Homo sapiens: one gene and its partners. The protein of the gene in region 1 interacts with the protein of each later gene in a pairwise test. Each region holds a gene or a part of one and is shown in the gene's direction. Other genes may lie near its edges.

Region 1 (3,651 bases):
CTTCACCTTCACCCTCCTACTGACTAGGCAATCAAGAGCTTTCCACTCACCAGGGTTCTTCATCTCTCCCCCTTAAGAAAATCCAGCAGCTGTCAGAGGGCTCCATGTTTGGCCACGGTCTGAAGCACCTGTTCCACAGCCGCCGTCGGTCTCGGGAAAGGGAGCACCAGACGTCTCAGGATTCCCAGCAGCATCAGCAGCAGCAGGGTATGTCCGACCATGACTCCCCAGATGAGAAGGAGCGCTCTCCGGAGATGCATCGCGTCTCCTACGCCATGTCCCTGCACGACCTGCCCGCCCGGCCCACCGCCTTCAACCGCGTGCTGCAGCAGATCCGCTCCCGGCCCTCCATCAAGCGGGGCGCCAGCCTGCACAGCAGCAGTGGGGGCGGCAGCAGCGGGAGCAGCAGCCGGCGCACCAAGAGTAGCTCCCTGGAGCCCCAGCGTGGCAGCCCTCACCTGCTGCGCAAGGCCCCCCAGGACAGCAGCCTGGCCGCCATCCTGCACCAGCACCAGTGCCGTCCCCGCTCTTCCTCCACCACCGACACTGCTCTGCTGCTGGCCGACGGCAGCAACGTGTACCTCCTGGCTGAGGAGGCCGAAGGCATCGGGGACAAGGTGAGATGGGCCTTCTGGGGCAGGGGGAGACTCAGAGGCAAGGGCCATCCGCTGAGGGGCCTTGAGACCTGGGGAGCTGAGCCAGGGGCCCTCCCTGGCAGATACTGACACCCCACCGTCTGCAGAGTTATCTACCTTGGTTAAAGGAGTCGGGTATGACTAGGCCAAAAACAAGAGATGATTCCCAGGATGGCTAATTTTTGTTTCCTTAGGGCTGTTTTTCAAAATTGTGTTTTGCTCATGCTGATATTAATGTTGACTTGTTTTCCTTAAATGGGCTATCAAGAGGCAATAGGTATAGTAGTTTAAAGCACAGACTGGAAGCAACTCTGGTTCTGCCACTTACTCAGTTAACCTCTTTGTGCTTGTTTCACCAATTGAAAATGAGGATAATAATAGTACAGTTGTAGGACTAAATGAGTTAATATATGTAAAATACTTGGAATAGAGCCTGGCATAGTATCATCTTTACTATTGGCACCAACCAAAGAAGATAGGGGATCCATGAAGGGTGATTTGGGAAGGAGAAAAGCTAGTTTAGCACTTCATGAATTTATATATTCGTTCTTTTATTCGTGTAACAAGTATCTATTGAATTCTTATGTTGTGCTACAAGAATGAACAAGCCAGTGTTGCTGTCCTTGTGGAGCTCACTCTAGAGGGGGTACAAGTGGGTGAATGGACAGAGAGATGGGAGCTGCTGTGGGAGCTTCAAGGGAGAGGGGACTTGAGGAGAGAGCGAGGAGCTGGCAAAGACCTGTTTGAGGAAACCATTGAGCTGAATCTTGAATAATTTAGCCAGGGAAGAACTGGGAGAGGGGAAGGGGGAAGAGAGGGCATAGTATGTACAAAAGCACACAAGCTGGTGCTAGGGGCTACTGGGGGTTCATTATGGCCAGAGCATCTAGCACTTTTGGGGATTGACAGGTAGGCAGAGGCCACATCACAAAAGGCCTTGCCATGTTGATTCTGGGAGTAGTGTGAAGCTATCAAAGGGTGCTAGGCAGGAAACTGGCAGGACGAGGTTCCTCTAGGTCTCAATATAAAGAGTAGATTGGGGCCAGGCACATGGCTCACACCTGTAATCCCAGAACTCTGGGAGGCCGAGGTGGGTGGATCACTTGAGGGCAGGAGTTCAAGATCACTCTGGCCTACATGGTGAAACCCCGTCCCTACTAAAAGTACAAAAATTAGCCAGGCATGGTGGTGGGCGACTGTAATCCCAGCTCCTCAGGAGGCTGAGGCAGGAGAATTGCTTGAACCTGGGAGGCGGAGGTTGTAGTGAGCCAAGATCGAGCCACTGCACTCCAGCCTGGGAGACAGAGCGAGACTTCGTCTCAAAAAAAAAGAAAAAACCAACAAAAAAAATCAGTAGATTGGGAAGGGAGTGCAGGACGGGAGTCAAGGAGACTTTGGAGCTAGTGCAGTAGTCTAGGCTGCAGCAGTGGGGATGGAAAGAAGGCGCCAAGTGCAGAAAACATTTGGAAGTGAAAGTCAGAAGTAGTAGGTGAGAAAGTGAATAGGAGGCAAAGGAAAGGGAGGCGTAGAGGATGATTCTAAGGTTATGGGCTTAGTGGCTTTAAAAATGGGGGAATTCTCTAGTTGAGGAATCACAGGAGAAGGAGCATGTTTTGGGGGGAAGGTGATGAGTTCAGTTTTGGACCTGTTGAGTTGCAAGTGCCTTTGGGAGCTGTCCAGCTAGGGAGGACCAGCTGGCAATTGGGTCTGTGGGGTAGGGGCCTGGGCCAGGGCCAGTGCTCTGGGAGCTGGCGCTGAGGTTGAAATCATGGGTGTGGGTGTGATCTTCAAAGGAGGATGTGTCGAATGAGAAGGAGGCTGTGGACAGACCCAGCTGACATGTAAGTGACAGGCCAAGCACCAGGAGCCCGAGAGAGAGCAGTCAGATGGATAGAAGTAAACTTGCAGCAAAGCAAAAGGAAAATGAGCTTGAAGGAGGAGGAAGTAATCAGAGTGAAATGCATAGAAGGGGCAGGTCACATCTGGGTTTGGAAATGTGCACAGGCAGTAGCAAGCAGTGGCTGTCATTGGGAACCATGGCCTGAAGCCAGTTTCTGTGGATTAAGGAGAGGGTGGAAGTGAAGGCAGGTGTGTAGCTTGGCTGGGAAGAAGGAGGGTATCAGGTGGAGGCAGTCTGGTTTTGTTGGTTTTTTTAAGTTGGGAAGCACCTGAGCCCACCTCCATGCTGGCTGGAGAGGTCCCTATTAGGCAGAGATCGAAGATAGCAGTGAGGAAGGGGAATTCTCACTGGGGTGAGGTCAGTGAGTAGGTGAAAGGGTGTGAGATCCAGAAGTCAGCATCGTCCTTGGTCACAAAGAGTCACCTCTGGGAGGCAGAAATGAATTCTTACTTTGTTTTTATTTTCTATGGGGGAAGAAACCAAAGGTGCAAGTGTTTATTGAGAGCAGGAGGGGAGGTGGGAAGGGCTGGCTTGAGGAGGGCAGTAAAGCTTTGGCTTGGGGCAGAGCAAGGCTCTGAGCAGGAACTCACGGGTGACCTGTCTGGTGTTGTAGAGGCTGGTAATTTGTGCTGGCAGCACCCTAGTGGTTGCGATTTGTTTTCTCTCTAGTGGTCCTAGCCAGAGGGTAGGAACAGAGCTGAACGATTATCAGGCTAATCCAGGGTTGGGGGTTGCTGGGAGGGCATGTAAGGGTGACAAAGGAGTTGGGGGTTTGTTTGGGTCAGAGAATGCTCAAAAGGTTGGACCTTGAAACCTCGGCTAGCAGAGAAGGAGGTGGGGATAGGAGAAGGCTGATGAATGTGGAGAAAAGGAGATGGGGGTACTGAGGGAATGAGGGAGCAGGTACATTAAGAATAAAGAGGAGTGAGAGAGACAGGAGAGGGCATTGGAGTTTACAATTTGGGGGGTGGGATAGGGAAGACAAAGGTCAGAGTATACTCATAGAGCATGACAGACAAGGAATGAATGGAAAGATAATTTGCAGTGGCAAGAGCTGAGAGGCTAGGTTGTGGGATGGGCTGTCCACATGACATGGAGATGCCCCCTTGGACAGTG
Region 2 (3,651 bases), on another chromosome or scaffold:
AGATACAGCTTAAATTTTGTCTTACAAAGTCAGCACTTATTGGTTATTCATTGTTGCGTGTTCTCAAAGGCCCTGAGTCAACTGTCTCTACTCAGTTAAATACTATTTGGACTTGTCCCTTATGGTTTCAAGCACAATTATTACAATATTTGGGGCTTACAAAAATTTTATTTATAACTAGCTTTTAATTTAACTAGATATTGTAAAAATTGGAAATTTGGAATATTCATTTCTTTGTCCTGTTGTAGGTGGCGCTCGTGTTTCCGAATAGTGACCCTGTGATGTTCATGGTTGCATTTTATGGGTGTCTCCTGGCAGAGCTGGTTCCTGTCCCCATAGAAGTGCCATTAACAAGAAAGGTAGCAAACCCATGGCTCAGGTCCCGTGTGGTTCGCTTCTGAACTTGATACCAGCAGTATCTTACTTCCTTTTCACTCATGTGGGCAGGCAGCAAGCAGCTGTTTTGACAGAGGAGAGAAAGCTAGTAGTCAACAGGCTGGCCAGGACTCAAGAGAAATCAGATGCCGTTTTGCCTGCCTCTCTTCTTGTTAATGAGAGGGGCACTGAGAACCGTTTTGCTGGTGATGCTCCCACACCACACTCTTATTAGGTGGAGCTGTTCTATCATCTACATGAATTTCCCAACAGAAATGATAGCCATTTTTTCCTCTAATGAATAGAATTATGATTCAATAAGATTTTGTTCAACTTTTCCTCAAAACCATATGTTTATAGAAAATAATTATTATTTCTTAGGGATAAATATATCATTACAGTGATATAGCTCACTTCTCAGTGGCAGTTTTGAATAAACGAGATGGAAATTATCTTGCATTTCTGTTCACTTATATGACCGTAGGCAGTTTCTGTTGCTGATAAATTATTAATGTGGGGTCTTGCTGATCTAGGTATCTGTAACATTTTTGATATAACTATCAATAATATGATTACTGAAAAAAAATAGACAAGGCATGAATTTGAGAAAATCAGTTTTCTGTCATCCTGTCCCAGAATTCAGGCAGTTGTTAACAGGAGCATTATCCAGAAATATTCAAGAATCCCAAAAGTAAAATTTGCAAATCAAACTAGTGTATCTCAAAGCATAATATGTGATGGGCAGGTATTTGAATGCAGTGGTTCTTAGGAGTAAAACTAGAGATTTGTCAAATTTATATGAAGAAAATGACAGAATACTGCTGAGGGACACAGAAGACTTGGCTACAAGGAAATGTGTTTCTGTGTGGAAATAATTTAATATCGTTGGTGACCAGGCCTCTCTAGATTAATTTGTAAATTTCAAACATGATTCAATAGAAATTTCAATGCCATTAACTTTGGAGTTTATTAAAAATGCTTCTAAATGTCATTTGTAAGAATAAACTTTGAGAAATTAGCCCATTAAACTTTATATTTCAACACAAATACAAACCAAAATTATCTTTTAAATTTAAACATAGTTGTCACATTTTCATGAACTATTTCCGTGAAAAGATCATATATATCAATAATGGGACTGAATTATTCTGGAAGTTTTATGAGGGATGAAAAAAAGATCTGTTCTCTGTGCATGGCCTGGAGCACCAAGGGTCTGGGGCTGTGGCTGCTGTGAGCACCCCACCCCACACGGTCACTCTGCTTTCTGCAGGATGCAGGCAGCCAGCAGGTTGGGTTTCTGCTGGGCAGCTGTGGAGTCTTCTTGGCCCTGACCACAGACGCTTGTCAGAAAGGCCTCCCCAAGGCACAGACAGGAGAGGTGGCAGCTTTCAAAGGTGAGGCCTCCCAAGGGAAGGGGAGTCAGTGTTCTGACTGTGGTCTGTGTTAAATGCATGGTGTTCCAGAAATTAAACATGACAGAGGTGTCTGGGTCTTCAGCAAAAGTGATCCCTTGTTCGAGTCCTTGGTGAATCTCGGTTTTCATCTGGCTTCATGTCTCGACCTGTACTGTCTAATGTGGTAGCCACTGGCCGGATGTACCTTTTTAAATTATATAAAATGAAATGAGACTAAAACTTGCACTCCTTATTCGCTCAGTAGCTAGTGCTGCATGTTGGAGGCGCAGGCTTCGAGTGTGGGGAGCAGATGCCTCTGACTGCTTGCTGTTCTGTGTCCTGTCTGTGTGTCACAGGTTGGCCCCCGCTCTCCTGGCTAGTGATTGATGGGAAGCATCTAGCCAAGCCCCCAAAGGACTGGCACCCTCTGGCCCAGGACACAGGGACTGGGACTGCCTACATTGAGGTAATGACTGTTCCTAACTTAGAGAATGTAAAAACATGTCCCACAGGCTTAAGTCTTGCTTTTCATAAGAATGTAAGTTGCTATTCTTTTTTGTTAAGTTTCGGCCTAAGAGTTCTTGTTTTATCTCTGCCCTGGAAATACAGAGTGTCATATAAATCCTTGCTCAGATCCTTCCAGGTTTCTCTCTCATCTAATTCTCTCCTAACTGGCTCCCTGGGGATGCAGACAGTTATGAGGGAGCCCATGGCGCACCATTACCCTCGGGCACCTGCCCAAGAGGAGCCACAACTTCCACTGAAGCATCCCCTCAGCGGCCAGGGTTTTGCCATGTACCTGGGCTGCTGGTTAGAGGCCGATGGTTAGAGGAGAGACACTGACCACTTCTTCTTTTGAAGATTCTACCAGTTTCCATTCTGTCTGTTGTCACCTCTAGAAATACCACATCATGTTTTTTTCCTTGAAATCTTTCAGTATAAAACCAGCAAAGAAGGCAGTACGGTGGGGGTCACAGTGTCCCACGCATCCCTGCTGGCACAGTGCCGGGCTCTGACCCAGGCGTGCGGGTACTCAGAAGGTAAGGGCTCTCGGGGGTGGGGCGGTGGCCCCTCCAGCCTCACACAGATACCTGACGTACCTAATCATGTGACTGTCACTGCACCTGTCAAAACCACCCCTGGGTAGTGCCTTTGCCCATTAATCCGGGTCATGCCAGGTAGGGAGATGCACTGTCTTTAGCATGCTTACAGGGTCTCTGTGGTTGTGCTGGCCAAGAGGGCACACGGTGTCTCTTAGCAGAGTCCAGACAACCCCATCAGGGTTGTTTTCAGTAAATGCACATGGATGTTGATTTTATGGAACATGGAACCTATATCCCACTGATTGATTTATACACAGTGCTGGGTTCACAGGCCTGCCCTGGGGGGCTGGCTTACTCTGTGACATACTGAGGGTCAGGGCATTTTTCATTCAAAAAGAGGAAAACACTTTTAGTTTTCTATTACTTTATCTATGACTGTAGTTTTGACCTCAGCTGTCATGGATATAAATATATAAGTAGAATCTTTATGGTTATAGATGATCTGTTGATAAAGTATAGTCAGCACCTGATTTACTTCAAATGTCAGATACTTAACTTGAGATATCTTTAAATTAATATTATTTAATTGATAAGTACTAATTGTATATATTTATGGGGTACACTGTGACAATTTTAAAAACTGTAAAAATGGACTCAGTAGTTTTCTTACATTGTAATACTAGAATTGAACAAAACTACTGAGTGAAATTGAATGGTATGTCTAAATATCTAAAATATAGGTGTTCAGGCCAGGTGCAGTGGTTCATACCAGTAATCCCACCACTTTGGTAGGCTAAAGCAGGAGGAACACTTGAGGTCAAGAGTTTGAGAGCAGCCTG
Region 3 (3,651 bases), on another chromosome or scaffold:
CAACTGAGTCCATGTAACATGACAACATTGGACATCATTCCATTTCAATGCACATCCTGTCATGCACCCCAGAAGGAGATTTTGGTTAACAATGGACCACATGTGATGGTGTTCCCTTAAGATTATAATACCACATTTTTACTGTAGCCTTTCAATGTTTAGATATGTTTAGATACACTGATACTCACCGTTGTGTTACAGTTGCCTGCAGTATTCAGTATAGCAACATGCTGTACAGGTTTGCAGCCTAGAAGCCATAGGTTATACTGTATCAGCTAGGTGTGCAGTAGGCTATACCATCCAGGTTTGTGTAAGTACACTCTGATGTTCACACAAAGATGACATTGCCTGATGACACATTTCACAGAAGATATCCTCATTGTTAAGCAACATGTGACTATATCTCAACCCTGAATAGTGTTCTATTATAATGGTGTACATTATTTTACTTGGTTGGTCTCCTATTGATGGATATGGATTCAAGCTGTTTCTACTTTTTTGCTATTGCAAAACAGTGCTGCAATGAATAATCTATATTATCTTTGTGAACATGTGAAGTAGAAGTACTAGTATAAAATTTTGGTAGATAATGCCAAAGTGATCTCCACAAGTGTTTACTAATTTTTATTCCTACCAACAAATATAAAAGTGCCAGTTTATCCCTACACTCTTTATAGTACGGTATTTTCTTTTCTTTTTTTTTTTTTTTTTGAGATAGAGTTTTGTTCTGTCACCCAGACTGGAGTGCAATGGCGATCTCGGCTCACTGCAACATCCGCCTCCTGGATTCAAGCAATTCTCCTGCCTCAGCCTCCCAAGAAGCTGGGATTACAGGCGCCCACCACCACACCTAGCTAATGTTTGTAGTTTTTTAGTAGAGACGGGTTTTCACCATGTTGGCCAGGCTTGTGTAGAACTCCTGACCTCAGGTGGTCCACCTGCCTCGGCCTCCCAAACTGTTGGGATTACAGGCGTGAGCCACCACCATGCTCAGCCTTCTTTATGTTTTTAAAGGCCATTAAATGGCCTTGAGTCCAGGAGTTCAAGACCAGCCTGAGCAACATGGTGAAACCTTGTCTCTACAGAAAAATACAAAAATTCACCAGGTGTGGTGGTGTGAGCCTGTAGTCTTTGCTACTCAGGAGGTTGAGGTGGGAGGATTAACTGAACCTGGGGAGCTGAAGGCTGCAGTGAGCCGTGATTATGCCACTGTACTCCAGCCTGGGCAACAGTGTGAGACCCTATCTCAAAAAATAAAAAAATAAAAAAAACATAAAGAGATGTTCGACCTCACTCTTAATAATACAAATGTGGAATAAACTACAACGAAATATTCTTTTTTTAAACTTTTATACTTTTTATCACAGTGATAAAGATCAAAACATTTGAAAATGTGATCTGTTATTTGTCTTTCGCCTGTGTGTCTATAGAATTATGCAATTTTTACTGATTTGGAGGAGCTTTGTGCATATAAGGAAATTAGCTCTTGTGATAAGTATTGAAAATACATTTTTTCAGTATCTTACTTTTCTTATGATTTTTGTATCGATTTTTCTGAAGTCTTTTGTTTAAATCTTTTATTTCATGATGTGTAGGCTTTGTGTCATTTCAGAAGGCCTTCTCCACTCCAAGGTTTAAAAAATCATTTCCTGGCCAGGCGTGGTGGCTCACGCCGTAATCCCACTTTGGGAGACCGAGGCGGGTGGATCACGAGGTCAGGAGATCGAGACCATCCTGGCTAACACGGTGAACCCCCGTCTCTACTAAAAATACAAAAAAAAAATTAGCCGGGTGTGGTGGCGGGCGCCTGTAATCCCAGCTACTCGGGAGGCTGAGGCAGGAGAATGGCGTGAACCCAGGAGGCGGAGCTCGCAGTGAGCCGAGATCACATTACTGCACTCCAGCCTGGGCGACAGAGCAAGACTCCATCTCAAAAAAAAAAATCATTTCCCATCTTTTCTTCTAAAACTTTAATTTTTAGAAAAACAATGTAGTTATTTTTTTATCCATCTGGACTTTTATGTAAGAAATGGGGTAAAGCTCCACCTTATTTTTTCCCCAGATAATTTCTTAGTTGTCCTTGAAGATGTATTTAATAATCTCTCTTTTTCCTGGGGAGTTTTATTTTTAAGGTATGAAACAATATTCACAATGAGGGAAAAAAAGGAAAACAAATTAGACATTTTTAAAACCTGATTGTTACCACAGATATAAAAAGATTGAGAAAAATTACAGTTTTTTTTTTGTTGTTGTTTGTTTGTTTGTTTTAATGAGTCTTGCTGTATCACCCAGGCTGGAGTACACTGTCGTGATCTTGACTCACTGCAACCTCCACCTCCTGTGTTCAAGCAATTCTTCTGCCTCAGCCTCCCAAGTAGCTGGGACTACAGGCGTGGACCACCACGCCTGGTTAATTTTTATATTTTTTAGTAGAGACAGGGTTTCACCATGTTGGCCAGGCTGGTCTCAAACTCCCGACCTCAAGTGATCTGCCTGCCTCAGCCTCTCAAAGTGCTGGGATTACAGGCATGAGCTACCGCACCTGGCTGACACAACCTTTATTTTTTTTATTTTTCGAGACGGGGCCTTGCTCTGTCGCCTAGGCTGGAGTGCAGTGGTGCCATCTCCGCTTACTGCAACCTCTGCCTCCTGGGTTCAAGTGATTCTCCTGCCTCAGCCTCCTGAGTAGCTGGGATTACAGGCATGTGCCACCACATCCAGCTAATTTTTGTATTTTTAGTAGAGACAGGGTTTCACCATGTTGGCCAGGCTGGTCTCGGACTCCTGACCTTGTGATCCACCCGCCTCGGCCTCCCAAGTTCTGGGATTACAGGTTTGAGCCACCATGCCCAGCCGACACAACCTTTTTATTAACTGCCTGATGTTTCTCTAAAGCATTTTACTCCAGAGAGGTCCCCCCATTTTAAATATATTGTGCAATAAAAGTAAACATCCAGTAAAATTGACTTTTTCTTGTACAGTTCTAAGTTTAGACAAACACATAGACTTATGTAACCAGCCACCACATTGAATTCAAGATAGAGAATCGTCCTTTAACCCCCATATATTCTCTCATGCTACTATTTTGTAGGCAAATCCTGCCCTCACCCCAATCCCTGGCACCCACTGCTCTGTTTTCTGCAAGTACCTATGTACTCAGAATTTCTGGTGACTGTTTTTGGGTTTTTTGTTTTTTATTTTTTTGTTTTTGAGGCAGAGTCTCATTCTTTTGCCCAGGCTGGAGTGCAGTGGCGCCATCTCAGCCCACCGCAACCTCCACCTCCTAGGTTCAAGCAATTCTGTTGCCTCAGCCTCCCGAGTAGCTGGGATTACAGGCATGTACCACCACGACCGGCTAATTTTTGTATTTTTAGTAGAGACGGGGTTTCACCTTGTTGGCCAGGCTGGTCTTGAACTCCTAGCCTCAGGTGATCTGCCCGCCTTTGCCTCCCAAAGTGCTGGGATTACAGGTGTGAGCCACTGCGCCTGGCCAACTGGTGACTGAATTGAGTCAAGTGGGAACTGTTGCCTGAGGACATTGCTTCTTAACTGGCAGGAACTTGCTCTGCACCCTGGAATATACTCTGAAGGCTGGGAGCAGTCAGAGGCCTCAGACAAATAATCATAAGAGTTAACATTTCCTGAGCGCTT

Evidence for each region.
Region 2: the proteins of TMCC2 (region 1) and DIP2A interact in a two-hybrid assay, tested with the Homo sapiens proteins (one large-scale study listed by BioGRID).
Region 3: the proteins of TMCC2 (region 1) and SMO interact in a two-hybrid assay, tested with the Homo sapiens proteins (one large-scale study listed by BioGRID and IntAct).

What each region holds. Positions count from the first base shown.
Region 1 is NC_000001.11:205,241,428-205,245,078, forward strand, and holds part of TMCC2 (transmembrane and coiled-coil domains protein 2), read left to right. Parts: intron 1-77; coding exon 78-617; intron 618-3,651.
Region 2 is NC_000021.9:46,531,879-46,535,529, forward strand, and holds part of DIP2A (disco-interacting protein 2 homolog A), read left to right. Parts: intron 1-248; coding exon 249-359; intron 360-1,645; coding exon 1,646-1,769; intron 1,770-2,125; coding exon 2,126-2,235; intron 2,236-2,706; coding exon 2,707-2,809; intron 2,810-3,651. UniProt on the Homo sapiens protein: Catalyzes the de novo synthesis of acetyl-CoA in vitro. Promotes acetylation of CTTN, possibly by providing the acetyl donor, ensuring correct dendritic spine morphology and synaptic transmission.
Region 3 is NC_000007.14:129,198,489-129,202,139, forward strand, and holds part of SMO (protein smoothened precursor), read left to right. Parts: intron 1-3,651. UniProt on the Homo sapiens protein: G protein-coupled receptor which associates with the patched protein (PTCH) to transduce hedgehog protein signaling. Binding of sonic hedgehog (SHH) to its receptor patched prevents inhibition of smoothened (SMO) by patched.